7 separate regions of the Homo sapiens genome follow, and all the other regions are linked to region 1. Evidence: fine-mapped expression QTL. A gene starts in region 1. Each other region holds a variant in brackets. All regions are shown on one strand. Distances are between the middles of the regions.

Region 1 (4,065 bases):
AAAGGATTTCCGTGCAGAAGATGACTGTGTAGGGTATGTTTTTGGATCAGACTGTCAGTCACAGAAGAAGGAGGAAAGTGGACTTATGGTAAAAGGTCAGACATTCATCCAGTAAGCATTCACTGCTTGACTGTGTGCCAGGCCCTGTACTGTGCTCTGGGTAGGAGAGGGGGTGGCCAGAGAGCAGACCGTTCTTGGGTGGCTCACAGTCCCCTAAAGGCCTCGGGTTAGGGAAGGACTGAAATATTGCTGGACAGAAAAATAGGAAGACTAGATATTGTCACCTCTACTTTTTCAAGGGAAGCAGTAGGACATCAGGGTGAAAGCCAGGCCAGGTTGCCTTTCAGCTCTGTTTCTTCTGAGCTGTGTGGCCTTCAGCAATAGTAACAACAACCACAGTGATCACAGTCAACGTTTATTCGACGCTTGATTTACATTTCGCGTGTCACTACTTCTTTGTTTCTCGGTTTCCTCATCTGTAAACGAGTGGGTGGGGAATTAATCGACTTCTCAGGGCTGTTGTGGGGCTCAAATGGTACCACGGGGGAAAGTTGGGCATGTGCTCGGGTTGTTTGTGAGGCCATAAGGGAGGCCCATATTGTTTGGAGGCTTGGGGGAATCAGGAGGATGTTCATTCCTAATGGAACCAGGTAGTGGGTTGGGGGTGAGGGTGGTGGCTCTCTTCACTGAGAGGTATGGCATGTGAGCAAGCTTCAAAGGGGAGAAAGAGGGATAAGGAGAAGGACCTTTAAGAGGAGGGCATCTGCCAGGTGCAGTGCCTCACATCTGTAATACCAGCACTTTGGGAGGCCAAGGCAGGAGGATTGCTTAAGCCCAGGAGTTCGAGACTAGCCTGGACAACATAAGGAGACCTCATCTCTACACAAAATTTTTAAAAAATTAGCTGGGTGTGGTAGTACACACTGGTGGTCACAGCTACTTGGGAGGCTGAGGTGGGAGGATCACTTGGGTCCAGGAGGTTGAAGCTGCAGTGAGCCATGATTGGGCCACTGTGTTCCAGCCTGGGTGACAGAGTGAGACCCTGTCTCAAAAAAAAAAAAAAAAAAAAAAAAAAAGAGGAGGGCATTGTGTGGGCAAAAGTGCGGAGGAGGAAAAGTATAGGGTGTGTTTGTGGAACAGTCCTGGTGCAATTAATGGCTAAGCCTGGCGCCCAGTGAATCAGCCAAGGATGCAGTCAACCAGCTCTTTGGCCCTGGGGCCAGCTTCGAGGCACAGAGACTTCTTTCCCTAACATTATCTTGTCCAGAGGTGGCTGAGGACAGGGCTAAGGGTGAAGGGAGACTAATTACAGAGCCCTACTTCTGGGTCTCTCACACCTACCCCTGGAAAGCCATCTGTCAGGAATGTGGCCGCCCCTCCCCACCTTCTGACCTCCTTAGCTAGGGACCAGTTTGGGCATCCCTAGGGAGTGATAAGCCACCAAGCAGGGGTGGCTGTAGGGAGTGTGTAGCTCCCAGCAGGCTGTTGGGAGTCAGTGGAGTTTGAAGAACAGATGGAGAGAAGGGAGGATGGGTTTAGAGTGAGAGGCTGGGGTCTTAGAAGAAGCAGTAGGTGGGCATGGTGGCATGCACCTGTAGTCCCAGCTACTCAGGAGCCTGAAGCAGGAGGATCACTTGAGCCCAGGAGGTCGAGGCTGCAGTGAGCTATGTTTGCACCACTGCACTCCAGCCTGGGTGACAGAGCAAGACCCTGTCTCTTAAAAAGGAAGAAGAAAACAGTGACGATGGGGGCTTACATTTGTCAAGCACCTACCATGTGTTGTAACCACCCTGTGAGGTATGTATCCTCACTTTACAGACCGGGAAACTGAGGCTCATAGAGGTGCAGTGACTTGCCGAAGTTTCTTTATCCAGTCATTCAGCATTCAACCTCAGCATCTACGTATTGAGCAGAGGCCCTGCGCCAAGCACTGAGGAGTCAGCGGTGACCACCTCTTGGCTTCTGTTCCCAAGGGTGACAGTGTCCTGGGGTCACACGGGCTCAAACCGAGGTCGATTTCCGAACGCTCACTTTGGAGCAGGATGCGAGCCCGGGCCACGATTGGGTCAGGTTGCGCCGCTCGCGTGGCCGCGGGAATCCCCGACCGGCCCCTTCCCTAGGGTCCCTCCTGGCGCACCTGCCCCAGGTGAGTCTGGGGAGGCCCCGAGCGCCGCCGGAAAGCGTCGAGCGGCTTCGGTAGGTGGGGCGGGGCCGGGGCGGGGCCGGGGCCGGGGAGGGGCCAGGCCCGGCACCCGGATCCCGAGGTCCGCGCCCCGCGCCCGGCGCCGGGCGCCCGAAGCCGGGAGCCGCCGCCATGGGGGCCTGCCTGGGAGCCTGCTCCCTGCTCAGCTGCGTGAGTCCCGACCCCGGCGCCCGCCCGCGCGCGCCGCCCGTTCCTGCTGCGGGCCCTCACTTTCTTCTGTTCTGCTCCGAGTAGTTTCTTCTTTTTCCTTCCTGCAAACTTGTCTTTCTGGGCCGGTGCCCCGCCTGCTCGCCCTCCTGGACCTTCACTCGGCACCCGGATCCCGCTGCCCCCGTCCCCCTGCTCAGTCCTGGCCGGCAGGCGCCGGGCAGCTGCGGTCCCGGCTCGGGTTTCCGCGGGCAGGAGGGGAGTGCCCTCGGCGGGCGCCCTCCTGGGACCTGGAGAGACTAAGCCTGGAGCCCGGGGTCGGGGCAGCTCTGTGGGCCCTCGTCGCCCCACTTGGGGCGGTCCTCGGGGTGGCCTCTGTCCCCGTCCCGGACGCCCTGGTTCTCTGTGTAGGTCGCCCGGGCCCCGTCCCTCCTGGCGAGTGCCCTGCCCTACCCCTCTGGCCGCCTGCCAGTCCGCCTGTTCCTGTCGCTCGGGCTCCGCCTGTCCGTTCGTATTTGTCTGGTTCCTGTCTGTGTCCGTCGTTCGTCCGACTGTCTTTGTCCGTCTGCTGTCTTCTGTCCGTCTGCCCGTCCGCCCGTCCGTCCCTCAGTCTCTCTGCGGTCCCTTTACCGTCCTCAGTCTGGCTCGCGCTGCCTCTCAGGCACTTCCCCAGCTCGCCCCGGATCATCTGGGCCCCAGCGCGGAGACTGGGATGGGAGCGGAGGGAGCCCCGGACTTTCTTAGCTGCCCTCGAGTGAGGCGGGTGCGGGTCGTCACGGACCACCGGGCGGAACTCTGGGTTGGGAGAGCAGGAATCGAGGGAGGTTCGGGTGTGCGCGGGGAGTGCCCGGTCGCGGGTTCGGGACCTGTGGGGAGGCCAACCTCTGTTCTGTAGCTGCAGCCGCAGAGGGGAGGGGCTCCAGCAAGACCCCGGCTGGGAGGCCCGTTCTCCCTTCCCTTTCCCCAGCCCCCCTCTCCTTTCCTCTTCCCCTCATTAAATCTGAGGTTCATTCAGGCAGCCCCCTCCCCCTCTGGCCCCACACAAAGAGGCCCTGAGAGGGAGAAGGGGCTGCAGCGGCTGCTGAATCTCGGGACTCGCTTTCCTTTGTCCCTGACGGGTTGTGTGTGTGTGTGTGTGTGTGTGTGTGTGTGTGAGAGAGAGAGAGAGAGAGAGGAGGGGGTGTAGGGGAGAGCTGAGGGTCTAGAGATTTACTTTACAGCCTTTTTCTGAGAATGAGATCAGCATAGACAGCACAGAGAGGCAAGAGAGCCTCTCGCCTCATTAGGCCTCCATTTTTCGTGTGTGTGTGTGCGTGTGCATGTGCGTGTGCAGGAGGAGGAATCAAGCTGGTGCCTGAAATCCCTCCCAGCCCAAAGAATTCAAGGTTTGGGCCAGGTCTCTGCCAACAAGGGTTTGCTTCCTGGTGAGGGAGGCAGAGCTTCCACAGTGGACCTGATTTCCATCGGTTGCACCTGGTGAGGCACAGGCCCTGCTGGGCTGGCCTGGGGGTGGAGATGTTGAGGGGCAGCCTGCCAGCCCTGTGTGCCTTGGTCACCCCATCTGGCAGTTGACAGTAACAGGGCCTTTCTCACAATGCTGTTGGGAGATGAGGCACAGTTCCTGGCATATCGTGAGTGCTCCTTGTGGGAATTATTGCTAACATCAAGGAAAGGTGGGTGGAGAATTCCATTTGGAGACAATGCAAAGCCAAGTG
Region 2 (4,065 bases), 190 kb before region 1:
TCCAGACCCTTCTCTAACATTTGGGGGCCTTGTGGACCAGGGCAGGAGCACCAATGCGGGTCTACCCCTCACATGCCTAAATATCTAAGTTACAAACCAAACTAACAACCTCCTAAATATATGTTCTGTCTTCTAATAGACTTAATGGTCTGGTAGGCCAGGCTGTGAATTTCAATTCCTCTGACTTCTTGGAGTTTTGAGCCAGAAGGTAGTAGCATCTTTCAGCATATGGGAAAGCCAGCCCCAGCTATCAGTCCCATTTCTGGCTGGGGTCTCATACGCAGGTCTGGATCCTAGGACACATGTGTAAGCTATGTCCACACCTGCCCCTCCTTCCAAGCAGCTGGCGCTGTCTATGGGTGGACATACACACACTGGCAGCGCAGGCTGTCCTCTGGAGAAGCCCCGGCACGCCCTGACAGTGGGCTTGGGGCTGACTGGATGGGGGAATCTGGGGTCCTGAGTATCTGGGGTGGAGTCTAGGGTGGGAGCGTAGGCATAGGTTTCCAGTGAGCATGTCCCCCTGATCCTGTGGACTGCCCGCCCTGGGGAAAGGGGCATGGCCAGAGGAGGGCCACAGAAGGCCCCCTAATGCTTCCGGTACCGCCCAGGTCCCCTGTAGCGGGGCTGTGGTGTCTGTTGTGAGCAAACTCGTAAATCATCACTGGAGACACATTCCCAAAGGAAGGTCTCAGGCCACACAGGTGCCTAGACTCCAGGAGTAGCCCAAGGGTTTGGAGAGCTTGGGATCAGGAAATCCAGGTTCAAGTCCTAGCTCTGCCATGTGCTGGCTGTGATTGTGGCCCAGCAAATTCCCCTGTTGGTTCCCACTTGCCCATCTGTAAAACAGGGATGACAGTTTCTGCCTAGCAGAGTTGTATGAAGGAGCAAATGAGTGCAGTAAGGTCTGTGAAATGTTTGTGCCTTGCTTGCACAGGCTATTCAACTCCACCCTGGCCACTGCTGCTAAACCTGCTTCAGAACACTCAGATTTTTTTTTTTTTTTTTTTTTGAGATGGAGTTTTGCTCTTGTTGCCCAGGCTGGAGTGCAATGGCGTGATCTCGGCTCACTGCAACCTCTGCCTCCCGGGTTCAAGCAATTCTCATGCCTCAGCCACCTGAGCAGCTGGGATTACAGGCATGTGCCACCACGCCCAGCTAATTTTTTTTTTTTTTTTTTTTTTAGTACAGACGGGGTTTCTCCATGTTGGTCAGGCTGGTCTCGAACTCCTGACCTCAGGTGATCTGCCCACCTTGGCCTCCCAAAGTGCTGGGATTACAGGCGTGAGCCACCACACCTGGCAACATTCAGATCTTTTACGATCTTCTTTTCCTGTATAATGCTCACCATCTGTGTCCCAACATGATCACTGATAGCATCTGAGTCCACATGGGCAGGGACATTGCCTCCCATACTACCGTATCCCCAGCACCTACCTAGCACAGAATAAGCACCCAGTGGCCGGGCACGGTGGCTCACGCCTATAATCCTGGCACTTTGGGAAGCCGAGGCCAGTGGACTACCTGAGATCAGGAGTTTGAGACCAGCCTGGCCAACATGGCGAAACCCTGTCTCTACTAAAAATATAAAAATTAGCCAGGTGTGGTGGCATGCACCTATAATCCCAGCTGCTTGGGAGGCTGAGGCAGGAGAATCACTTGAACCTGGGAGGTGGAGGTTGCGGTGAGCCAAGATAGTGCCACTGCACTCCAGCCTGGCGACAGAGTAAGACTCCATCTC[C/CA]AAAAAAAAAAAAAAAAAAAAAGCATCCAGTGAATATTTGACTGGCTGGATAAACTATGAAACTTTGTGATTTGTGATTATTCACCTGGGCCTTCCATCTGCTCTTGGGGTTCATTCAAGCATCACACATTCACTGAGTTCCTTCTGAGGGCCACACTCCATGTCCACACTCAGTGGACACTTCCAGGCCTCAAGGAGCTCCCAGTCCAGGGAGAGGGATTTGATGTGGAAATAGAGCAGAATTACAACAGCATAGTACCTGCTGTGATGGAGGCAGGGGACAAGTTGTCAGGGCCCAGAGGAAGAAGTCAGTGTGGTGAGCATGCGGGAGTACAGAGATGCTCCGAGGATGAAATGATGGATTAGCAGGCCTAGGAGATAAAGAAGGAAAGAGCTTCCAGAGAGGCAGGCACAGCAAATGGCAAAGGCTCTGAGGTGTGAAACAACCCAGGGTGTTTAGGTCCATGCAACCTGAGTTTAGGGACACGGAAGTGGTAAGTTTCGGTTAGCAGGCAAGCCTGGGCAGGCTTTCAGTGTCTCTCTGGTCTAGACGAATAATTCTCATTGTGTGGTCCCTGGACTAGCAGCATCAGCATCACTTTGGAACTTGTTAGAGATGCACATTCTTGGCCCCCATCCCAGACCTCCTAAATCAGAAACTCTGGGGGTGAAGCCTGGAAATCCATATATATATATTTTTTGAGACGGAGTCTTGCTCTGTCGCCAGGCTGGAGTGCAGTGGTGCGGTCTCGGCTCACTGCAACATCCGCCTCCCGGGTTCAAGCGATTCTCCTGCCTCAGCCTCCCGAGTAGCTGGGACTACAGGCACGCGCCACCAAGCCCAGCTAATTTTTGTATTTTTAGTAGAGCCGGGGTTTCACCATGTTGGCCAAGATGGTCTCGATCTCTTGACCTCATGATCTGCCCACCTCGGCCTCCCAAAGTGCTGGGATTACAGGCATGAGCCACTGCACCTGACCTGGAAATCCATATTTCAACAAACCTCCAAGTGCTTTTGATGCATGCTAAAGTTTGAGAAACACAGCTTTAGACTTTATCCTGAAGGCAATGAGGGGCCAGGGGTAGGGTTTAAACAGAGGCGAGGCAGTATCAGAACTGCATTTTATTTTATTTTATTTTTTTGAGACAGAGTCTCACTCTGTCACCCAGGCTGGAGTGCAGTGGTGCGATCTTGGCTCACTGCAACCTCCACTTCCCGGGTTCAAGCAATCCTCCTGCCTCAGCCTCCTGAGGAGCTGGAATTACAGGCGCCCACCACCACACCTGGCTAATTTTTGTATTTTTAGTAGAGACAGGGTTTCGCCATATTGGCCAGGCTAGTGTTGAACTCCTGACCTCAGGGAATCCACCCGCCTCGGCCTCTCAGTGTTGGGATTACAGGCGTGAGCCACTGTGCCCAGCAGAACTGCATTTTATTAAGATTGCTTGCGCAGGCTGGGTCCAGGGCAGTCTGGTGAGGGGCTGGTAAAAACCCACATCTGAAAGCTGGCCTGACATGGAGACTCCCTCCAGCTGGACAGAGCTGCTGTGGCTGCAGAACATGTGTGTATCTTCACACGTGAAAGGGAAGTGGCTACTGGGAAGTCAGGGACCCCTGCTGGGCAAAGGGCCTGTTGCCAGGGTGACCACCTGTCACTCAGATAAAGGGGGCACAGTCCTACAGAGGGTCAAGAGGCCAGAGACTGTCATCTGCCAGGCCTTCACTTTCCTTTGCCAAGGCAGGGTATGGACCCATCTGGGGGTGGTGACCCGTCACCAGTGGTGGGGCTCTCCCATTCTTTCTTCAGCTGGTGCAGGGTGAGAGGAAGAGGAACAGGAGGACTCAATGCATCCTCTTCAACCAGGAGACGGATGCAGAGGAGCACATTAAACAGCTTTTCAAGGCTCCCCAACAAGGAAGCTCAGAACAACTGAGGCCCAAACTGAAGCTCAGGAGAGGGGAAAGGAAGAGAGAGCAAACTGCACCCTCAAACCTGGTGAAGTGCAAAGTTCAAGGAGTTTGGAGTCCAAAAGGCCTGGGTTAGAGTCCTGAACAAATACTGTGTGATGTTGGGCAGGCTCTGTCACTCCCTGAGCTTCAGTTTCCTCATCTGTACATGGGAGATAGTATCCATATAATAGTGTCTACCTCTTAGGGTTACTGCAGGACCAACTGAGGAAATGCATCTGAAGTGAGATGCACAGTGCCTGGCACCTCCCTGCGTCTTGTCCTCTTTTCTTCAGGGAGGGAGGAACACCTGCTCTCAGGCGGCTACTCCTTGATGCTGGGACACTTGCTGGGGAAAAGCAGCGGCTCTGGGATC
Region 3 (4,065 bases), 120 kb before region 1:
AACCCCTGCCTCTACTGAAAATACAAAAACTAGCTGGGCGTGGTATGGGTCCCTGTAGTCCCAGCTACTAGGGAGGCTGAGGCAGGGGAACTGCTTGAACCCAGGAGGTAGAGGTTGCAGTGAGCTGAGATTGCGCCACTGCACTCCAGCCTGGGCAACATGGTGAAACCCCATCTCTACCAAAAATAGAAAAATTAGGCAGGTATGGTGGTGTGCACCTGTAATCCCAGCTACTCAAGAGGCTGAGGCTGGGGAATCACTTGAACCCGGGAGGTGGAGGCTACAGTGAGCCAAGATTGTGCCACTGCACTCCAGCCTGGGCGATAGAGCAAGACCCTGTCTCAAAGAAAAAAAAAAAAAAGCAAATTCATTAATTCATTTAAAAAGCAATAAGAAGTATGGGGGTGTAGTTTCCCAGATGTACTCTTTTGAAGTCCCTCACTGTTTAACAATTAAAATATAAACCAGAGCCCAAAATTCGTGTCAAAGAGAGAATCAAATGGTTGGTACTATGATGTACTGTGTCCTTGTGTGCCTCTGAGATAAATTATTATTTCTAGGCCTCAGTTTCCTTATTTATAAAATGAGGATGCTCAGTGAGATCAGTGGCTCCCAGAATGTGAGACTGGCTACACTGAATCACTTGAAGGACACATTAAAATATCTGATTCCCATTGCAGATCCACTGAACCAGATTCTTTGGGTATTTTTAACAGGTTCTTCAGGTGATGATGATATAAAGATAGGCTGGCAACCATCTGACTAAACGATGTTTAAGTTCCCATCTTGTGCCATACTAAAACTATTCACTGAACTTTTTATATATTGTCTATAATCTCAGAACAGCCTTTTTTTTTTTTTTGCTACCTCCCTGTTGGTGGAGATACTCATAACAGCCTTGAAAGACACGTATATTACTGTCACAGTTCTTTTTTTTGAGACAGAGTCTCGCTCTGTCGCCCAGGCTGGAGTGCAGTGGTGCAATCTCTGCAAGCTCCACCTCCCGGGTGCACACCATTCTCCTGCCTCAGCCTCCCAAGCAACTGGAACTACAGGTGCCCGCCATCACGCCCGGCTTATTTTTTGTATTTTTAGTAGAGACGGGGTTTCACCGTGTTAGCCAGGATGGTCTTGATCTCTTGACCTCGTGATCCACCCGCCTCGGCCTCCCAAAGTGCTGGGATTACAGGCGTAAGCCACAGCACCCGGCCTATTTCAAGTAACAATTTATTCTATGGTTCTATTATTATTCTGTAGGGTAATTAAAACTTGTATTAAATGTTTTATTTTAAATGGGGAAAAATTTCAAGTGTGTTATGGGAGATGACTGCTAAAATTAAGTTTTGCACAGGAAGCTAGAGTACAAGTGGCAAGGCAAGATAAGGTTCACATCACATCACCTCAGAAACTGGAACACGGAGAGACAATACCCACCTTAACTGTGCCATCGTCACTGCCAGTGCAGACAAGCTGAGGGCCTCTCCTGGCTGGATAACAGGAATTCACAAAGGAAGTATGTCCCTTTAGCCTTTTAACCCTCTCACCTGTTTCACTATCCCACACAGCCACGGTTTTATCTGTGGATGCTGAGAAAAGCATACTAGAAAGTAAGAGAAAGAATAAAAAAGAAATAAGTGAAGATAAACAGTAACAATCTATCTTTCCTACTTGACAAAAGGTGCCAAATTTTTCAAGATCACTGACCTGCTGTGCTACGCCAGTTTGCCCATGATGCTGGAATGCCTCACCCTACCAAAATCCTATTTGTCCTCTAGGCCCAGATGGCCCAGATAAAAGATCTACCCCTGTGAAGTTTAAAAAATTCCCCTTCTTTGAGTCCCCATGACATACATCTAATGTAGCAGTTTGCTCTATCTTTTCCTCTTTTGTGATAGCTAACATTTTAAACATAAGACACCCTCTCACTTGGAAATGTTTAATAACTCCCTGGTGCTGCAGAGATCAGACAGACTGTGGTACCGACCTGACAGCTGAGTGACTCCAATCTTTTCTCTTTACCAAAGTTTTTCTTTTGTCTCTGAGGACAATTTCTTTCTTTCATTTTTTTTTTGAGATGAGATCTTGCTCTGTCACCCGGGTTGGAATCATGGCTCACTGCAGCCTCGACCTCCTGGGCTCAAGTGATCCTCCCACCTCAGCCTCCTGAGTAGCTGGGACCACAGGTCTGTGCCACCATGCTCAGTTAATTTTTAAAAATCATTTGTAGAGGC[A/T]AGGTCTCACTATGTTGCCCAGGCTGGTCTTGAACTGGGCTCAAGCAATCTTCCTGCCTCAGCCTCCTACAGTGCTAGGGTTATAGGCGTAAGCAACCACGCCCAGCCTCTGAGGATGATTTCTAAGTTATAACTGATCTTATAATGCTTTCTTTTTTCATTTTTTTTGAGATGGAGTCTCACTGTGTTGCCCAGGCTGGTTTTGAACTCTTGGGCTCCAGGAATCCTCCTGCCTCAGCCTCCCAAATAGCTGGGATTATAAGCACATGCCACCAGGCCCAGCTTTCTAATGCTTTATTTAAAATGTATACAATGCTATGTATCAATTGATGGAGCACCCTAAGATTTTAGAGGTCAGAAATGTAAAACAATGAATGTTTACCAGACTACCTAACAATGTAATTACTTTTGTATAGCCAGATTTCTATATTATCTATAATATATTCTAAAATAATATAGTCATTAAAATGACGTTTATGACATCAGATGTTGGCTGAGCAATGTTAAGAGAAAAAAGGAGCAAATAAGATTGTACACACAGTTCTGGCCAGGTGCGGTGGCTCACACTTGTAATCCCAGCATTTTGGGAGGCCAAGGCGGGCGGATCACAAGGTCAGGAGATCGAGACCATCCTGGCTAACACGGTGAAACCCCATCTCTATTAAAAATACAAAAAAATTAGCCGGGCATGGTGGCGGGCACCTGTAATCCCAGCTACTCAGGAGGCTGAGGCAGGAGAATGGTGTGAACCCCGGAGACGGAGCTTGCAGTGAGCCGAGATCGCACCACTGCACTCCAGACTGGGCGACAGAGCAAGACTCCGTCTCAAAAAAATAAAATAAAATAAATAAATAAATAAAAAAGATTGTACACATAGTTCTAACAAATATGCAACAACTAAACAGTTCTGAGTAGAAAAAAAGGCATTAGAAAAATGTATAAAATTAACAGTGATTGGCCAGGCACGGTGGCTCATGCCTGTAATCCCAGCACTTTGGGAGGCTGAGGTGGGCGGATCACCTGCGGTTGGGAGTTCAAGACCAGCCTGACCAACATGGAGAAACCCAGTCTCTACAAAAAATACAAAATTAGCCAGGCACGGTGATGCATCCCTGTAATCCCAGCTATTCTGGAGGCTGAGGCAAGAGAAACACGTGAACCTGGGAGGCGGAGGTTGCAGTGAGCCGAGATCGTGCCATTGCACTCCAGCCTGGGCAACAAGAGTGAAATTCCGTCTCAAAAAAAAAAAATTAACACTGATTATCTTTGGAGTGGTAGAAATATAGACTATTTTTTCATCTTTCTGCTTTTTTTGGTTTCTCAAAAGAAATGATTTTTATAATAGAAATAGCTGATTTCAGGCCAGGCATGGTGGTTAATTATTGTAATCACAGCATTTTTGGGAGGCTGAGGCAGGTGGACTGCTTGAGCTCAGGAGCAATATAGCAAGACCATGTCTCCACAAATGATTTTTAAAAATTAGCTGGGCATGGAGGCGTGGGCTTGTGGCCCCAGCTATTTGGGAGGCTGAAGTGGGAGGATCCCTCGAGCAAGAGGTTGAGGCTGCAGTGAGCCATGTTTGTGTCACTGCACTCCAGCCTACATATAAAAATCACATTTATTTTATGTCTTAAAAAAAGAAAAATTTGTCTGGGTTGTTGAAATGACCGATGTAACATCTTTATATTTGCATACACAGACTATAAACACCTCACTTGGGGTGACAGTGATAAATCGGATACTAAAGTAGCTACCCAAAATTAGTAGTTTTTGATAGCAGGGTCTCCTGAGAAAGGATGAAAGGTGAAAGGACGCCAAGAATTAGTATGAGAAG
Region 4 (4,065 bases), 21 kb after region 1:
GTTTTTCCTGCTGCTTCCACACCCACAGCTCCCTGGCACATGCACTGCTGAGAGCCCAGGGGCACAGGTCTGTTCTTAGCATGGTTCTTACAGCACAGGCAGCAAAGAAGCATATGCAACCCATGAGGGCCAGGACCACCCAATCTGGGCTCCCATGCATGAGATATCCATATGGTATTTGGTAGATAGGGTGGAGAGGGTGGAGAGGGTGAATAGGGTGGATAGGGTGGATAGGGTGGACAGGGTGGACAGGGTGGATAGGGTGGATAGGGTGGATAGGGTGGATAGGGTGGATAGGGTGGATAGGGTGGACAGGGTGGACAGGGTGGATAGGGTGGATAGGGTGGATAGGGTGGTTAGGGTGGATAGGGTGGTTAGGGTGGTTAGGGTGGTTAGGGTGGATAGGGTGGATAGGGTGGATAGGGTGGATAGGGTGGATAGGGTGGATAGGGTGGACAGGGTGGACAGGGTGGACAGGGTGGACAGGGTGGACAGGGTGGACAGGGTGGACAGGGTGGTTAGGGTGGACAGGGTGGACAGGGTGGATAGGGTGGTTAGGGTGGATAGGGTGGACAGGGTGGACAGGGTGGACAGGGTGGATAGGGTGGATAGGGTGGATAGGGTGGTTAGAGTGGAGAGAGTGGACAGGGTGGAGAGGGTGGATAGGGACCCACTGACTCACAGCAAGGGGTGATTTCTCAATTTGCTGGGGTGGCGGGGCTGGAATCCAGCTCTCCTTTTCACTTTTGTTTGGAAACGTGAGTTGGTTTTTCAAAAATTTTTATGTCTCAAACTATCAAATTCTGTTAAAAACATCAAGGCTCATCACAGAAAAGCATGACATACAATCATTACTGTTGTTCTTTTTTTAGTGTAAGCATGAAGGAAAGGGAGGCCATTGGTAAAACCACCTGACACTAATAAAATGGAAACTTAAAATCAATGGCAAATGAGCGTGATTAATTATTAACATTCTTAATGGATGTAGTACCTGGTATGGTACTTTGTAGTATTAGGTACTCGATACGTGTTTATGGAAATGGCAAAGGAACAATCCTAACAATAGTGACTGTTGATTGAATTTATATTCTGTGCCAAGCACTATGCTAGAGACCTTACATCATTATTCCGTCTAGTCCCCCCAGCAGCCCTCTAGAGGAGGTACGATTATCCCTTATTTTACAGACAAGGAATCAGAGGCTCAGAGAGGTTAAGTGTTTTGCTCAAGGTCACACAGAAAATGGGAGTGGGGGTAGGGGTAGAGTTGAGAGGCAAAGCAGTTTGTTAACTCCCAGGCCCAGTAACCGGGTCGCTGGCCTCTGAGGCTCTGGGACCATTTGTGTCCAGTGTTATGAGCAACGCCAGAGCTATCTATTTGCCCACCTTCCTCCCTCCCCTGCAGTCTGCGCTCCTCAGACCACCGGCAGGTGAACAGCCTGATGCAGACCGAGGAGTGCCCACCTATGCTAGACGCCACACAGCAGCAGCAGCAGGTGGCAGCCTGTGAGGGCCGGGCCTTTGACAACGAGCAGGACGGCGTCACCTACAGCTACTCCTTCTTCCACTTCTGCCTGGTGCTGGCCTCACTGCACGTCATGATGACGCTCACCAACTGGTACAAGTGCGTAGCTGGTGGGGCATGGACAGAGCCCGGAGGTGCAGGGTGCAGGTCCACACATCTCTCCTGCGGCCCTTCACTGGGTTTTCCTGATGTCTGCTTAAGGCTTGGGGGTGGCGGTGTGTATCAAGGACCCTCCATAGAGCCTGCCCCTTCCCTGCTACAGTTTCCCCAACAGTGCCTTCATCTGCTCAGCTCCCGCACCTTCACTAGGAGACTGAACCGGGGAAGGCACAGCAGCTGGGGCTGGACCTGTACAGGGCAGGCGGGGTTTACAAATCAGGGGTCATGGGGTCAGATTTGGGCTTCATGGTTGGAGGGTTAGGATCAGGGTGTGGAGTGCAGAACCAAAGTTACAAGGTCAAGGATAGAAGTCATGAGGTCTGGGGCTGGGATTGTGGTCATTTAGTGTCACAAATTTGGTCATTTGGTTAAAGTTAAAATTGAGAGTAGGAGGTCATAAAGCCAGGATTGAAGTGGCAAGGTCAAGGAGCTAAATGACAGTAATAAGGTCAGGGGCCACCCCTAAGTTACAGGATCAAAGGTCAGAATCAAGGGTAGCGGTCAGGACTAAGGTCAGGAGCTCCAGGGTCCCAAGTTCAGAGGCTAGGATTGAGGTCCCAGAATTAGGATCACAAGGTTGGAGACCAGGAGTCAGGTCATGATCTCATGGACTAACACTGGGCTCAAGATGGGAATCGAGGTCAGGAGCTATGTCCACGGTCACAAGGCCGGGTGTTAAAAATGTCAGAGATGGACTGGAGTTACAGGGTAAGAGCCAGAGTTGAAGTCAGGGGTCATAACTGGGACATAAGGCCAGGGGCCAAGATGGAAGTCACCAGACTGGGCACC[A/G]GGCTCATGGGGAAGATGGTGTGTTCCAGGCCCGGTGAGACCCGGAAGATGATCAGCACGTGGACCGCCGTGTGGGTGAAGATCTGTGCCAGCTGGGCAGGGCTGCTCCTCTACCTGTGGACCCTGGTAGCCCCACTCCTCCTGCGCAACCGCGACTTCAGCTGAGGCAGCCTCACAGCCTGCCATCTGGTGCCTCCTGCCACCTGGTGCCTCTCGGCTCAGTGACAGCCAACCTGCCCCCTCCCCACACCAATCAGCCAGGCTGAGCCCCCACCCCTGCCCCAGCTCCAGGACCTGCCCCTGAGCCGGGCCTTCTAGTCGTAGTGCCTTCAGGGTCCGAGGAGCATCAGGCTCCTGCAGAGCCCCATCCCCCCGCCACACCCACACGGTGGAGCTGCCTCTTCCTTCCCCTCCTCCCTGTTGCCCATACTCAGCATCTCGGATGAAAGGGCTCCCTTGTCCTCAGGCTCCACGGGAGCGGGGCTGCTGGAGAGAGCGGGGAACTCCCACCACAGTGGGGCATCCGGCACTGAAGCCCTGGTGTTCCTGGTCACGTCCCCCAGGGGACCCTGCCCACTTCCTGGACTTCGTGCCTTACTGAGTCTCTAAGACTTTTTCTAATAAACAAGCCAGTGCGTGTACCATGTTCTGTGCCCCTCACCCTCAGCACGGAGCCCCACTGCATGGGGGCCGGTGTGGGGTTTGGGAATAGAATGTTAGGGCTGAGGAGGCTGGGACATCAGGGCCAGACCAGGAGGAGCCTCAAAGGCAGACAGAATGGCCTGAGTTCTGTCTTCTGGGTCATGGAGCGCCTGAGGGGAGGGGGCCAATGAGGAAGGAGGGGCAGACCAGGGTTTTGGGAAAGTAGGGTGTGTCTGGTGGTCAGAAAAGGAGACCCTAGAGGCAGTGGGGCCAGCAGGAGGCTGCCCGACCATCCAACCATCCGAGGGAGGGCAGTGAAAGAGAGTCACGGTGGGGAGGAGGGGGCGATGACAGGGCCAGAAGGTGGTCTTCAGGTCCCCTCTCATCAGGGCCTGCCTCAAGGTCCTGCCCACCTCTGACCTGCCTGGAATTGTTACCACCGTTGGTACCTGCCCTGACCAGTCAAGCCCCAGGCCTCGGGGTGCTGTGGGGAGGAGCATGTGCTCTTGAGTCAGCCAGGCTGGCCCAGATCCCTCCGTACCACGGCAGCCGCGGGGCTGCTGTCCGGCTCCGGATGGGTCCTTCTCTTCTCTGGGCCCTGGTTCCTCATTCATTCAATGGGAACAATGCCACCCCTCCTAGGCTGTTGTGAGGATCAGAGGAAGCAGCCCATGCAATCTGCCTGGCACAGCGAGTTCTTGAGAAATAACATCAGCCCCCATCTCACAAGGGCAGAGAGATGTGAGGGAGACTGACAGGCTCCTGGCTAGGGCCCCAAGGCCTGGTCTTGTTACGATGATGGACTGCAGGCCATTCATCCCTTCCATTTGTGGGGATAAAAAATAGGTATGAAGGTGCTGGGGATGGGTGCTGGGGACACAGCCTGTCTCTAAGGCTCTCCTGGGTTCTGGGGTGAGTGACTAGTGGGGCTGCACGGGGACCTGTGGGGTCAC
Region 5 (4,065 bases), 42 kb after region 1:
GTTTTAAATTCTGTTTATGTGGTGTATCACATTTATTGACTTGCATATTTTAAACCATCCCTGCATCCCTGGTATGAAACCTACTTGATCATGGTGGATTATCTTTTTCATATGTTGTTGGATTCAGTTAGCTAGTATTTCGTTAAGGATTTATGCATCTATGTTCATCAGGGATATTCGTCTGTAGTTTTCTTTTTTGGTTATGTCCTTCCCTGGTTTTAGTATTAGGGTGATACTGGCTTCATAGAATGATTTGGGTAGGATTTCCTCTTTCTCTATCTTGTGGAATAGTGTCAACAGGATTGGTACCAATTTTTCTTTGAAAGTCTGGTAGAATTCATCTGTGAATCTGTCTGATCCTGGACTTTTTTTTGTAGCTAACTTTTTCTTACCATTTCAATCCTGTTGCTTGTTATTGGTCGTTCAGGGTGTTAGTAACAAATGCTTGTTCCTCGATGCTGCAAAGAAATGCACTTGAACATAAATTTAATTTTCTCAGCAAGGCAATTTTTACTTCTATAGAAGGGTGCGACTTGCGGATGGAGTAATGGCGAAAGCATGCCTGAACAAGGGAAGGGAAGTGGTTCTTATTCCTGATGCAGGTAGCCCCTGCTGTTGTGTCATTCCCCTATTGGCTAGGATTGGACCGCACAGTCTAAGCTAATTCTGATGGGGTATTTTAAAGAGAGCAGGGGTACGAGCCAGAGTGTCAGGGTGAGTAGTTTGGCAGGAAGGGCAGTTATAGAACAGGTGACTCAGGATGATTCAGGTCAGAGCAGGTGACAGGGGTGACTCAAGATGGAGCAGGTGGCCAGGGGTGACTCGGGTCAAAGCAGGTGACCAGGGGAACAGATGTGAACTACTGATTAGAACTGGCAGGAAAGTTGTTTACTGAAACTAGAGGCAAGGGGGGAGGGCAAGAGAACCAGGAAGTTAGACTTAAAAATGGAGAATAAAGAATAAGAGAGCTGAACATACTGACATACTGATTCTTTGAAAAGAAACTTGGAGTTCACTATCTTTAACAATCCCCCATCTTGAAATTTTACAGTTGTTTCTCTTCAAACTTCTTTAACATGTCTTGGCTTAGTTGTTCTGCTTGATTCTCTAAAAGAAAAAGCTTCTCTGAATAAGGTGGAGGAGAATTAAAGGAGGTTTTAGTAAGTGCTGCCTTTATGAGCCTCTGCACCAGCCTATGGATGCATGGTATGACACAACACCTGAAAAGAATGGCTATACCTATTATGGCTGCAAGAGAAGTAAGAATTGAGGCTATGATTCCTTTCCATTTACTGAATCATTTTTCTAGCCACCTGGTGAAGCGGTCATTTACTCCTGAGTTTTTGGCTAACTCGTTAGATAGAGCAATTAGACCTTGCAATGCCTTTGTTATACTTCCATCAGGAGCAATATTGTTTGGGATGAAGGTACAACATTGAGTTTTAATCATGATGCAAACTCCTCCTTTTTCTGCTAACATTATGTCTAAGGCTATTCTATTTTCCCAAGCCATCTGGCTAGTAGCCCCTAATTGCTCAGCTATTTCTTTAATAGCATCTCTAGTGTAGTTTATAATAAACTGCTGTTGGTTGTAATAAATGTAATTTATCCAATCTACATTTTTATTAATTGTTACCCACCAAAATATTGACTTACATCCTGCAGCTATTTGATTTCAGGCTTTAAATTTATCTGGTACTCCTGGTGGAACTCCAATAGCATTTATATAAACATGGGAATCAAAGGACCCATGTGAAGCACTTCTTTTACGATTTTCTTTTTTTTTTAATCGTGTTGACGGAATGCTAGGGTGAAAGGGATGGCCAATTGGACTAAAGCATGAGTGCTGCTTTAATTACTTGGCAGAGTACCCAGCAATAGTCCCCTGCAATACCACTACACATCTGCTCGGGGATGAACAAGGGCAGACTGATGGGTAACCTCTTGAAAAGGCTTGGTTTCACTGCACCCTGTTAAGTCTCCAAGGAATGCTAACTTTTTCCTCTGCCATGAAAGGCAGGAGGTGAAGTAAACACCAGGGGCTGGAGGCTGGATGGACCTCAGGGGCTGACCCGCAGGGCTCTTAACCTCAGGGAACAGCAGTGAAAGAGTCTTCCATCACTCATCACCCCAGGCTGTGGGGTTTTGGAAGAGAGCTACCATAACAGCTCATGCCCGGTCCGTGAGAGGACCACCCAAGTGGAAAGGGGACAATCTCTGTCTCTGGGCTGCCTGTCACACAAGTCTAACAGTCACTTTTGTTTAGCATGAGAACAGAATATTTAATCCATTCAAGCCAAGCATTTGTGTCCTGATACCCTGTGTCAATTGCTATAGTTTGTTTTAAATCTTTAACCTCTACAACTACTTTGGTTTTATCA[T/C]TGGGTATATAACAAGAGAAGGTTTGGTTAGCGGAGAACTTAAGAGAGGGAGAAGGGGGTGGAGGAGGTGAGGCGGCAATGAAGCGCATTTCAAAGGATCCTATGGGGGTTGTTCCCTGAGACTTCTGCCCCTATACCATAGAAATGGCTTAATGGAGGGGAAGAACTCTGGGGAGCAGCGATGGTCATCTGTACTGGATTCCATTGGTTCAGCTGACAATGTGGAGGGATAACTCCTTTAGTAAAATGAACATATGGTTTTAAGAAACTGCAAGTACTAGTTGGAGCAGTCCATCCTCGCTCTTTAGTATTTTATAGGTCCATATAGTATTTTATATGGACCAACTTCAGCAGAGAAGCTCTGCTGTAGAAGGACAAGATTCCCAGTTTATACTGGAATCTTCGTCAAACTCTTCTCAAACTAACCTATCCCAGTTAACAGATTTCCAGTCTAAGGAGAGCTAGGGAGGATAAATATACTTTTCTGAAGCAGAGAGTTGCTTCTGACTTGGCAAGTCTCCACAGCGTATAACAAAGCAAGCATCAAATGTAATATTTTGAGGCAAAATTGGCTTGGTTACATTAATAACTAGGTGGTCAGCAATAGAATGAGGAAAGAAGTAATAGAATAGATGAAAGAGAGTTAAATTTTTCTTAGCTTTAGTTTGGTAGGGTTTTCCTCTGGGACTATGGTCCATGACCGTGGAGGGGGCGGCGCTTTCTTGACTCGAGTGTGAGGGGTCCACCCTTTTTCTGCTGTCCGGACTGCAGTTTCAGTAGTTAGGAGCGCTAGGTAAGATCCTTCCCAGGCTGGTTCTAATTTTTCCTTTTCTCTAACTTTTGACAGGGACGTGGTCCCCAGGCTGATGTTGGTGTGCTGGAAACTCTAGGGGTGGCACCTGTGCTAAAAGACCTTTAGTTCTGAGGGAAGGGAAAGTAGACGATAAACCAAGTATATAATTTCTGAGAAATTGTTCTTTTGTTTTAAATGTAGAGAGATCAGTAGTAGAATGTAGATAAGGCAATCCATAGAGCATCTCATAAGGGGACAGGCCTGTCTTTTGGGGGAGCAGTTCGGACTCTTCACAGGGTAATATGCCTTCCTACTTTCCCTGATGAAGGTGGATGCCAGAGAGTATGATATCCCCATGTTATATCCAGTATCTGTGCTAATTTCTTAGTGACATGTGCTGTGAAATGAGTCCTATTATCTGAATCACTGTTTTCTATTAATCTAAACCTGGGTATAATATTTTTAACTAATGCCTTGATTATATTATTAGCATTTGTACTTGAAAAGGGAATAGCTTCTACCCAATGAGTAAGGTGATCTACTATTACTAATAAATACTTTAGACGACCAGTTGGAGGCTTCTCTGTGTAATCGATTTGGATACTTTGGAATGGGCTTAAGCCTGGACTCCTTCCCCCAAGTGGTAATCTTTTACTAAGCAATTGTCTGTAACCTGTTTGGCCGGGGTACACATTTCTATGCACTTATAAACTCTGAGGACTGTGTTACACATGGCTTGGGGCCCCCAGTGGGTCTCTTGATGTAGTTGGGACAAGATTTCCCTCATAAGGGGTTTGGATAACATTTCTCTCTGGTCTAGCAATATCCATTTTCCTTCTGAATTTTCTTTAGCACCATTTTTGTTCGTTTTTAAACCAAAGAAAGCCAAAC
Region 6 (4,065 bases), 150 kb before region 1:
CCCTGAAATCAACTCTGTTCCTAATCCTCTGAGCCAATGATGACTTTATAGCCTTATCAAACTGAAGTAAAACTTGAAGGGCAAGTTGAGTGAACTGCTGAGATTTTATGAGCTCATCTAGGCTCTCCTGAAGACTGTGTCCCAAAGTAGTACTTCTGTATAACTGATATGATATGGCTTAGGAAGAAGAAATTGTTTTTCTTATTCAAGCTTGCCTTGATGTCCTGTGCTGAAGGTTTCCTGCCATGGAGCAGACAGAAGTGACCAGGAGCCCAGCAGGGGGTTCCTATGTTCCTGACCACCTCTTCAGTAGCCACAGAAACTACAGAGCTGAACCCAAGACTCTGGAGCTCTTAATATACTCTCGTATTTTACTTTCACTTACCCTCCATAAATGTACTGGCTAAAAAAAAAAAAAAAAAAAAAAGTTCCTTTGACCCTCAATCTTGCTTAAGTCATTAAAGGGTAAAGTATAGAGCTATTATCTTAATCTGATGATGTAAAATTCATCTGTTGGTAAATATAAAGGGCTGGTAGTTTTGAAGCAGGTATTTAAAATTATTTACATATTTTGTTTTGTGCAATCAACAACTCACCAGTACTTGATCATAAAAATGGTACATTCACCAGTACTGGATTATAAAATGCCTAGTTCTAATCCAACTTACACTTTTGGTCAAAAATGCAAATAAACAAGAGCTTCTTAATTATACTATTTAGCTGTCATCAGCTAGGCTCCATAGAAAGTAAGTTCTGAACAAGATGGAAGAGAAGCAGGAACTCCATCTGTCTAGACTCCATGGCTCTGATACTCATGCCCTTCCTACTGTCTTCTTTCTTGTCATGCACAAAAAGCTGGTCCTCATTAATTCAATAAAGGGCAGTATGGCATAGTGAAAGAGTATGAGCTCTGGAGTCAGAAAGACTGGGGTTCAAGTCTCAGTGCAGCTATTTACTAGCTAAGTAAGCTTAGCTCAGAGAAGTTAAATAATTGCAGATCATTTAACTTCTCTAAGCTTCTTAGTTACAATGATGGAGAAAATATTGATCTCATAACTTTGTTGAGAAAAATAATGAGGTAATATATGCAAAGTGCCTGGCACACAGAATTAATTATAGCTATTGTTATTATAAGTACACTCATCATCAAAACAGAATCTCATGAAGTCAATGGGCTGAATAAATCACTCTTGGCCGAGAGACTGGTCAGCCTTCCCGTAGCCTATAGGACTATTCAGAGTTTCAAGTTTGAATATGAGGAGGTGATCTGTAAGTTATTAGTTAGTAGAAAGGAGAAGTTTGCCAAATCCAGGCCAAGCTGAAAAGGAGTTTTCTGAGGATACATTTCCCAGGCACATAAAAGACAGAATCCCAGATCTCCAAGGGTTTACACTTCAAGGTCTCACTCTTGATGGCTGCCAATTAGATGCTAAATTTAGAGGGGTTCCTTGCCCTCTCCTTACTTTGGCATGGCAACATTTGGCAGGAACCAGAAGCCTTATGTAACACAGCTGCTTCTTGACTTGGGGCCAATTGGTGAGGTGGCCTGTCAAATCTTGCCAACCCCCAGCAGGTAGAGAGGGATAGGCTTTCCTCATACCA[C/T]GCTTTCACATGTGATTTTGTTTTTTTTTAAAGAGATGGGGTCTTGCTCTGTTGCCCAGGCTGGAGAGCAGTGGCATGATTGCAGCTCACTATATCCTCAAACTCCTGGGCTCATGGGGTCCTTCTGCCTCAGCCTACCAAGTAGCTGGGACTACAGGTGCACACTACTATGCCTGGCTAATTTTTTAAATATTTTTTTTATAGAGACAGGGTCCTGCCATCTTGCCCAGGCTGGTCTTGAACTCTTGGGTTCAAGCCATCCTTCCACCTCAGCCTCTCAGAGTGTTGGGATTAAAGGTGTGCACCATTGACCACATGTAAAGTTTAAAGGAACAGTGGAGAGGAAAAGAGAAAAAAAGGACATTGCAATTCAGAAAGGGCCAATGCCAGAAACAAACTGCTCATCAGAAAAAAAAAGTATGTAAATATAATTTAAAAATTTAATTACAGCTGGGTGCAGTGGTTCATGACTGTAATCCCAGCACTTTGGGAGGCCGAGGCAGGCGGATCATGAGGTCAGGAGATTGAGATCATTCTGGCTAACACGGTGAAACTCCATCTCTACTAAAAATACAAAAAACTAGCCAGGCGTGGTAGCGGGCACCTGTAGTCCCAGCTACTCGGGAGTCTGAGGCAGGAGAATGGTGTAAACCCAGGAGGTGGAGCTTGTAGTGAGCAGAGATTGCACCACTGCACTCCAGCCTGGGCGACAGAGTGAGACTACATCTCAAAAACAAACAAAAATTTAATTACAAAAGATACACTCTTTCTGCTGAAAATTATGTAAAAATACTTAGGATAGTTCTTACTATATCAGAATATGAGACACCTTAGTCTGTTTCTTGAAGTCTTCTCTAGCAACTTGATAACTTAAAATTCTTTAGATTTCCCTCTTCTAGGCAGCTCTCTAAACCACTTGCACTCAAATGATCAATGTGACACTTTCACCTGGACCCTTTCTTTTTCCTCCAGAAAATACCTGAATACTTGTCCATTTTTCTTGGCATTAAACTTGTCAGGAAAAAAAAAAGTAGACTCTGGAATTTAAATATGTTCAGAATTATTCATTAATAGAAAGGTATGGGACAGATCACAGTGCAGCTTCTGTGTGGCAGCGTTAGGGCCCCAAATAGAGGAAAACCCTGGAATATGCTGAAAGCCCTGGCTAGCCCAAGAAAGTCTTCCTATTTATAGGATGGTGCTTGTTTCAGTAGGATTGAAAGAGAAACTCTAAAGGGGAGGATAGGATTAAGCTAAAAAGGGTCAAGACACTGCCCAATGAGAGCTAAACACAGGATTTGCTGTCAGAGGGTCTTATTGTTCTTTACCAGGCCTCATTTGCAGCCCATCAGACTCGACACCTGGACATCCCTATTCAACCTCTGATTCTCCCCCAAGCACAGGTTACCACAGACATGCCAAATACAACAGCATCTGACAGAAGAATTCTCTCCCTTCTGTTTCTCATTCAGCACATAATGCCTGAGCCAGTTTAGATTCGTATTTCATAAAGCCTTAGCCGATTAATTCAGCATGGGGTGGAAAATACCTAGTTCACATTTTGTTACACCCTGCACCTAGCAATCATTGCACTTCCCACTAACCCAGACACAGCTCTGAATCATCTCCAACACAGGCAGGCATTACCAATAGCTGAGCTGCTATGCAGGGTAAAATTGGACTGCCATTCTTCAGCTAGGAATTCATTCATGTAATATAAACTAATTGGTTAGAAAAGCTCAAGCACTGACAACAGTGCCATGGGTTCACAGAAATGACTAAGATTCATTCCCTAATCTCTAGGAGAAAATAACTTAGTGGAGGTACCTCACTTTGTCTGTCTGATTGTAAGATGTAATAAATGCTACCAAAGTTTAGATGTATGAAATGGGATTACAGCACAAAGAACAATTAGTTATCTCCAAGAGGTAATAGAGAGAGGGGACCAGGGACAGTTTATGGATGTAACATAGAGGTGGTTACTAGAGAGATATAGGAGTTTAGATAATGAAGAGGGAATGTGAGAGAGAACCTAGAGGTGAGAACGCAAAAGGAGGTTAGAATATGAAAATTCCATGTGCGCAGCATTGTGGTGATGGTGGGGGAGGTGGGTATTTAATATGTGTTCAAATGAACTGAAGCATGGAATAAGAAATGTGGTGAGGGAAACTAGAGACAGATTATGAGACTGAATTTTATTCTGATGGCAAAGGGAACCCAACAGAATCAAACAAATTGTTGATCCTCTAGGTCTAAAATGTCTCCAAAGTGGGTAGAAATGATCTGTTTGTCGAACACGGTTTTGAAACCCTTCATACTGCACAGAGCTTCATCTTCAAGCACAGTCATAACTCTATGTCTGCTCTAGCTCCATATCCACGCTTTATGTATAAAACACAAGAAGACATCCTGCATAGCTATATCATTGTTTTTTTTTTGGAGATGGAGTCTCGCTCTTGCTGC
Region 7 (4,065 bases), 160 kb before region 1:
CGGGGATTACAGGGGTGAACCACCATGCCTGGCCAAGGACAACTATTAATAAGTAAACAGGACAAGGCTCTAGCACTCTCCTAGGAAAGATTAAAACTTTCCGAGCCTGTAGAACAGTGGTTCTCAAACTTGCACCAGAATCTCCCAGATGGCTTGCTAAAACACAGACTACTGAACACTTTACTCCCCCAAAATTTCTTGAAGGAGAAGTTAACTTGGCTTTATGCTGCCCTCCTGACTATAGTTCTAGCCATGGCCAGCACCAGTGTTCTCAGCCTTGACTGCACACTGGAATCACCTCAGGAGGCTTTAAAATCTGATGTCCACCTCAGAGATTCTGATTTATTTTATTTATTTATTTTAATTAACTTTTTTTTTGAGACGGAGTCTGGCTCTGTCGCCCAGGCTGGAGTGCAGTGGCACGATCTTGGCTCACTGCAAGCCCCACTCCCAGGTTCATGCCATTCTCCTGCCTCAGCCTCCCGAGTAGCTGGGACTACAGGCGCCTGCCACCGCGCCTGGCTAATTTTTTTGTATTTTTAGTAGAGACAGGGTTTCACCGTGTTAGCCAGGATAGTTTTTTGTTTTTTTTTTTTGAGACAGAGTCTTGCTGTGTCACCCAGGCTGGAGTGCAGTGGCGCAATCTCGGCTCACTGCAAGCTCCGCCTCCCAGATTCATGCCATTCTCCTGCCTCAGCCTCCCGAGTAGCTGGGACTACAGGCACCCGCCACCACACCCGGCTAATTTTTTGTATTTTTTAATAGAGACGGGGTTTCACCGTGTTAGCCAGGATGGTCTCTATCTCCTGACCTCGTGATCCGCCCGCCTCAGCCTCCCAAAGTGCTGGGATTACAGGCGTGAGCCACCGCGCCCGGCCAGAGATTCTGATTTAATTGGCAGGCCTTGGTGGGGCACTAGAAACTGTACTTCCAGGAAGTTCTCAAGTTGTGGATGCTGTTGATCCAGGACCCCACTTTGAGAATCACTGCTCTAGAGCAGGATTTCTCAAAAGCATCACTCATGACATCCTAAAGCAGTTAATTCTTTGAGCATCTCTGGCCTCTACCCACTTATATGTCTGTAGCACCCCTCTAGATAGCTCCAGACATTGTCAAATTGTTCCCTGGGAGGCAAAATTGCCTAAGATTGAGAAGCACTGCTCTAGAAGATCTAAGTTAAAAAAGAATGCAAGAGTCTAGGTGGGTTGCAGTGTCAATTGAAGAAAAGAAGTTGAAGCCTAGAAGAAAGAGTTTGGAACATCCCCGGGCTTGATGCAGAGGATGGCCATCCATGCAGGCTTCTTTCAGAGGAGCATCATTATGTGTCTGGGGTTCACAGACAATTGATCAAAGGGCAGGCTAAGAGGCTAAGAGCTCAGACCTGGCATCATTTGGTTCCACAGGAACAGGGCTGTCCATTTTAAGTCAGGCTCCTCCCTCTTCCTGGGACATCAGCTGTCAAGCCCCAAAGACTCTTGGAAAAAGCAATCCTGTCCTAACCCAAATGGCCTGACAACCTTTCTTTAAGGCTCAACTGCCTACGGCTCCAAATTGCTCAGAGCTCTCTTTTACCTCAGTTTCCCATTCTTCTACTTTGAGATGTTAGTAAGCGGCAGACTCTAGTCTATTAGTAAGAAGCAAATAGTTTTGTTGTGAAGAAGCAACTCTGATAAGCCTTTACCTGTTCTTTCTAGCTTATTAGATCCAATCCCTGAAAAAGATTGTTCTTGTCTTTGAAACCAGCAACTCTGCCTATTACCTATTTACTTGAAATAGAAGACAACGTCTGGAGGCTTGGATCTGCTTCCCTACAGGACTCATCCTTGCATAACTTCACTAGGCCCATGAAGGTCTTCAGGGATTAGCTTCTCTAACCTGAAAAGGGATCGACCATCCCTGAACAACCAGGGGAAGTAGGTGAGGGAAGACAGTACCAATTTTTGTTCTGATGGGCTGGCCTGTAAATAAACTGTTTAGGGGGTTGGGACTGAACGGGATTAGGGCTACTGACTAGGAGAAAAGGTAGTTATTATATCAGGGAGGCCAAAAAAAAAAAAAAGGAAAAATAACCTGAAAATCTGCCTCCCTAAAAATTCAACCCACAAAACTCAGCCACGCAGCAAAAAAGAAATTTGGCTCTTTAAGTGCCAACAGTATTAAGTGCTAGAGATTGTGGAAGTCATAAAGGGAAATTAACTGAAAATCAGGGATGCCATTACTCATTCGGGAGCAATCT[C/T]TCTCTCCCAAAGTGAGAATACAATCTGCACCCTCTGGGGATCTTTTATACGCAAATCTTTATTCCCCAGGCTGGGGCTTCTATTTTCTTCAAATTCTAAATGGTGCTGCTATTTCCTGCTAATGGCTTCTACCCAGCCTCTTGAAGAAGGCACCTGAGGGGGGACTGAAGAAGCTGAGGTTAGAGGAAAGCCCTCACAGTCTCCAGGGTCTTGGCTCTTCCCAATCACTGCCAACTTCTCAAGGGATTGGTAGGCTTTTAAAAGGGCAGTGTCAAGGTTGAAGCCCTGTTGTATTCCAACCCAAGAAAAGATGAGGGTGGGTGGAAGGGACTGGACCGGTTTTCAAGTACAGGTTGAATATCCCTTATCCAAAATACTTGAGACCATAAGTGTTATAGATTTTGGATTTTACTATTTTTTTTTGAGACAGGATCTCACTCTCACCCAGGCTGGAGTGCAATGGCAGGATCTTGGGTCACTGCAGCCTCCACCCACTGTGCTCAAGCAATCTTTCCACCTCAGCCTCCCAGGTAGCTGAGACTATAGGTGCATGCCACCACACCTGGATAATTTTTGTATTTTTTGTAAAGACAGGGTTTTGCCATGTTGTCCAGGCTGATCTCAAGCAATCCTGGGCTCAAGCAATCTTCTCGCCTTGGCGTCCCAAAGTGCTGGGATTACAGGCATGACTCATTGCACCCAATTTCTGAATACTTGCATATATATAATGAGATATCTTGGGACCCAAGTCTAAACACAAAATTCATTTGTTTCATATACACATAGCCTGATAATTTTGTAAAATATTTTAAATAGTTTGTGCATGAAACCAAGTTATTTTTTTTTTGGAGATGGGGTCTCATTCTGTCACCCATGCTGGAGTGCAGTGGCATGGTCATAGCTCACTGCAGCCTTGATCCCCTGGGGTCAAGCGATTCTCACCTCAATCTTCCAAGTAGCTGGGACCACAGGTGTGTGCCACCACATCTGGCTAACTTTTAAATTATTTGTAGAGATGAGGTCTTGCTATATTGCCCAGGCTGGTCTCAAACTCCTGGGCTCAAGTGAACCTCCCACCTCAACCTTCCAAAGTGTTGGGATTATAGGTGTGAGCCAGTGTCCAGCTGAAACAAAGTTTTGACTGCGACCTGTCACATGAGATTAAGTGTGGGATCTTCCACTTGTGGCATCATATGGGCCCTCAAAGTTTAAATTCTGGAGCATTTAGGATTTTGGATTAGGGATGCTGATATAGTTTGGATAGTTGTTCCCTCCAAATCTCATGCTGAAATTTGATGCCCGATGTTGGAGGCAGGGCCTAGGTGGAGGTATTTGGGTCAAGGGGGTGTATTCCTCATGAATGGCTTGATGCCCTCCTTGTGGTAGAGTTTTCATGGGTTATTTATAAGTGCATGGCACATCTCCTCCTCTCTTGCTCCTTCTCTTGCCATGTGATACATCTGCTCCCCCTCTGCCTTCCACTATGACTGGAAACTTCCTGAGGTCCTCACCAGAAACAGATGCTAGTGCCACCCTTTTTGTACAGCCTGCAGAACTGTGAGCTCAATAAACTTCTAAGTTACTCAGCCTCAGATGTTTCTTTGTAGCAATGCAAAATGGACCAAGACAGATGTTCTACCTGTATGTGGACCTGGTGCTTAAAAAGGATTATTAGGGAGTGTTCAGTGATACTGCTGGAGGTGTGAAAAGCAGCTTGCATACTACCTTTGTCCAAATTTCTCCTGGTTAAAGGCATAACCATATATATATATTGCTCAGACCAGAAATCTGAAAGTCACTATTCCCTTTGGAGATTCTACCATACTAT

What was found.
Region 2: its variant is fine-mapped to the expression of SERINC2 in whole blood (INTERVAL, PIP above 0.99).
Region 3: its variant is fine-mapped to the expression of SERINC2 in whole blood (TOPMed, PIP above 0.99).
Region 4: its variant is fine-mapped to the expression of SERINC2 in whole blood (GTEx, PIP above 0.99).
Region 5: its variant is fine-mapped to the expression of SERINC2 in whole blood (TOPMed, PIP above 0.99).
Region 6: its variant is fine-mapped to the expression of SERINC2 in whole blood (TOPMed, PIP above 0.99).
Region 7: its variant is fine-mapped to the expression of SERINC2 in whole blood (INTERVAL, PIP above 0.99).

What each region holds. Positions count from the first base shown.
Region 1 is chr1:31,410,952-31,415,016 of GRCh38, forward strand. It overlaps SERINC2 (serine incorporator 2), which reads left to right and starts at 2,262. Exons shown (of 10, transcript NM_178865.5): 1 at 2,262-2,353. The coding sequence starts at 2,315. RefSeq lists enhancers at 2,010-2,510, 3,781-4,065 and silencers at 2,077-2,146, 2,227-2,286.
Region 2 is chr1:31,219,013-31,223,077 of GRCh38, forward strand. The region is part of intron 1 of NKAIN1 (sodium/potassium transporting ATPase interacting 1); the gene reads right to left. Among named protein-coding and RNA genes, the nearest start is that of NKAIN1, 19 kb to the right of the region's middle. RefSeq lists an enhancer at 3,242-3,742. The variant C/CA (reference allele first, on the strand shown) is at 1,742.
Region 3 is chr1:31,287,820-31,291,884 of GRCh38, forward strand. SNRNP40 (small nuclear ribonucleoprotein U5 subunit 40) reads right to left here. Exons shown (of 10, transcript NM_004814.3): 4 at 1,435-1,600. Among named protein-coding and RNA genes, the nearest start is that of SNRNP40, 6.9 kb to the right of the region's middle. The variant A/T (reference allele first, on the strand shown) is at 2,232.
Region 4 is chr1:31,431,565-31,435,629 of GRCh38, forward strand. SERINC2 (serine incorporator 2) reads left to right here. Exons shown (of 10, transcript NM_178865.5): 9 at 1,403-1,621; 10 at 2,500-3,114. The coding sequence ends at 2,635. The region is part of intron 1 of LOC124903900 (a long non-coding RNA gene); the gene reads right to left. Among named protein-coding and RNA genes, the nearest start is that of SERINC2, 20 kb to the left of the region's middle. RefSeq lists an enhancer at 2,948-3,752 and a silencer at 3,524-3,724. The variant A/G (reference allele first, on the strand shown) is at 2,471.
Region 5 is chr1:31,453,075-31,457,139 of GRCh38, forward strand. The region is part of intron 1 of LOC124903900 (a long non-coding RNA gene); the gene reads right to left. Among named protein-coding and RNA genes, the nearest start is that of SERINC2, 42 kb to the left of the region's middle. RefSeq lists an enhancer at 199-1,398. The variant T/C (reference allele first, on the strand shown) is at 2,382.
Region 6 is chr1:31,263,509-31,267,573 of GRCh38, forward strand. The region is part of intron 8 of SNRNP40 (small nuclear ribonucleoprotein U5 subunit 40); the gene reads right to left. Among named protein-coding and RNA genes, the nearest start is that of NKAIN1, 26 kb to the left of the region's middle. The variant C/T (reference allele first, on the strand shown) is at 1,603.
Region 7 is chr1:31,253,784-31,257,848 of GRCh38, forward strand. No RefSeq gene overlaps it. Among named protein-coding and RNA genes, the nearest start is that of NKAIN1, 16 kb to the left of the region's middle. The variant C/T (reference allele first, on the strand shown) is at 2,237.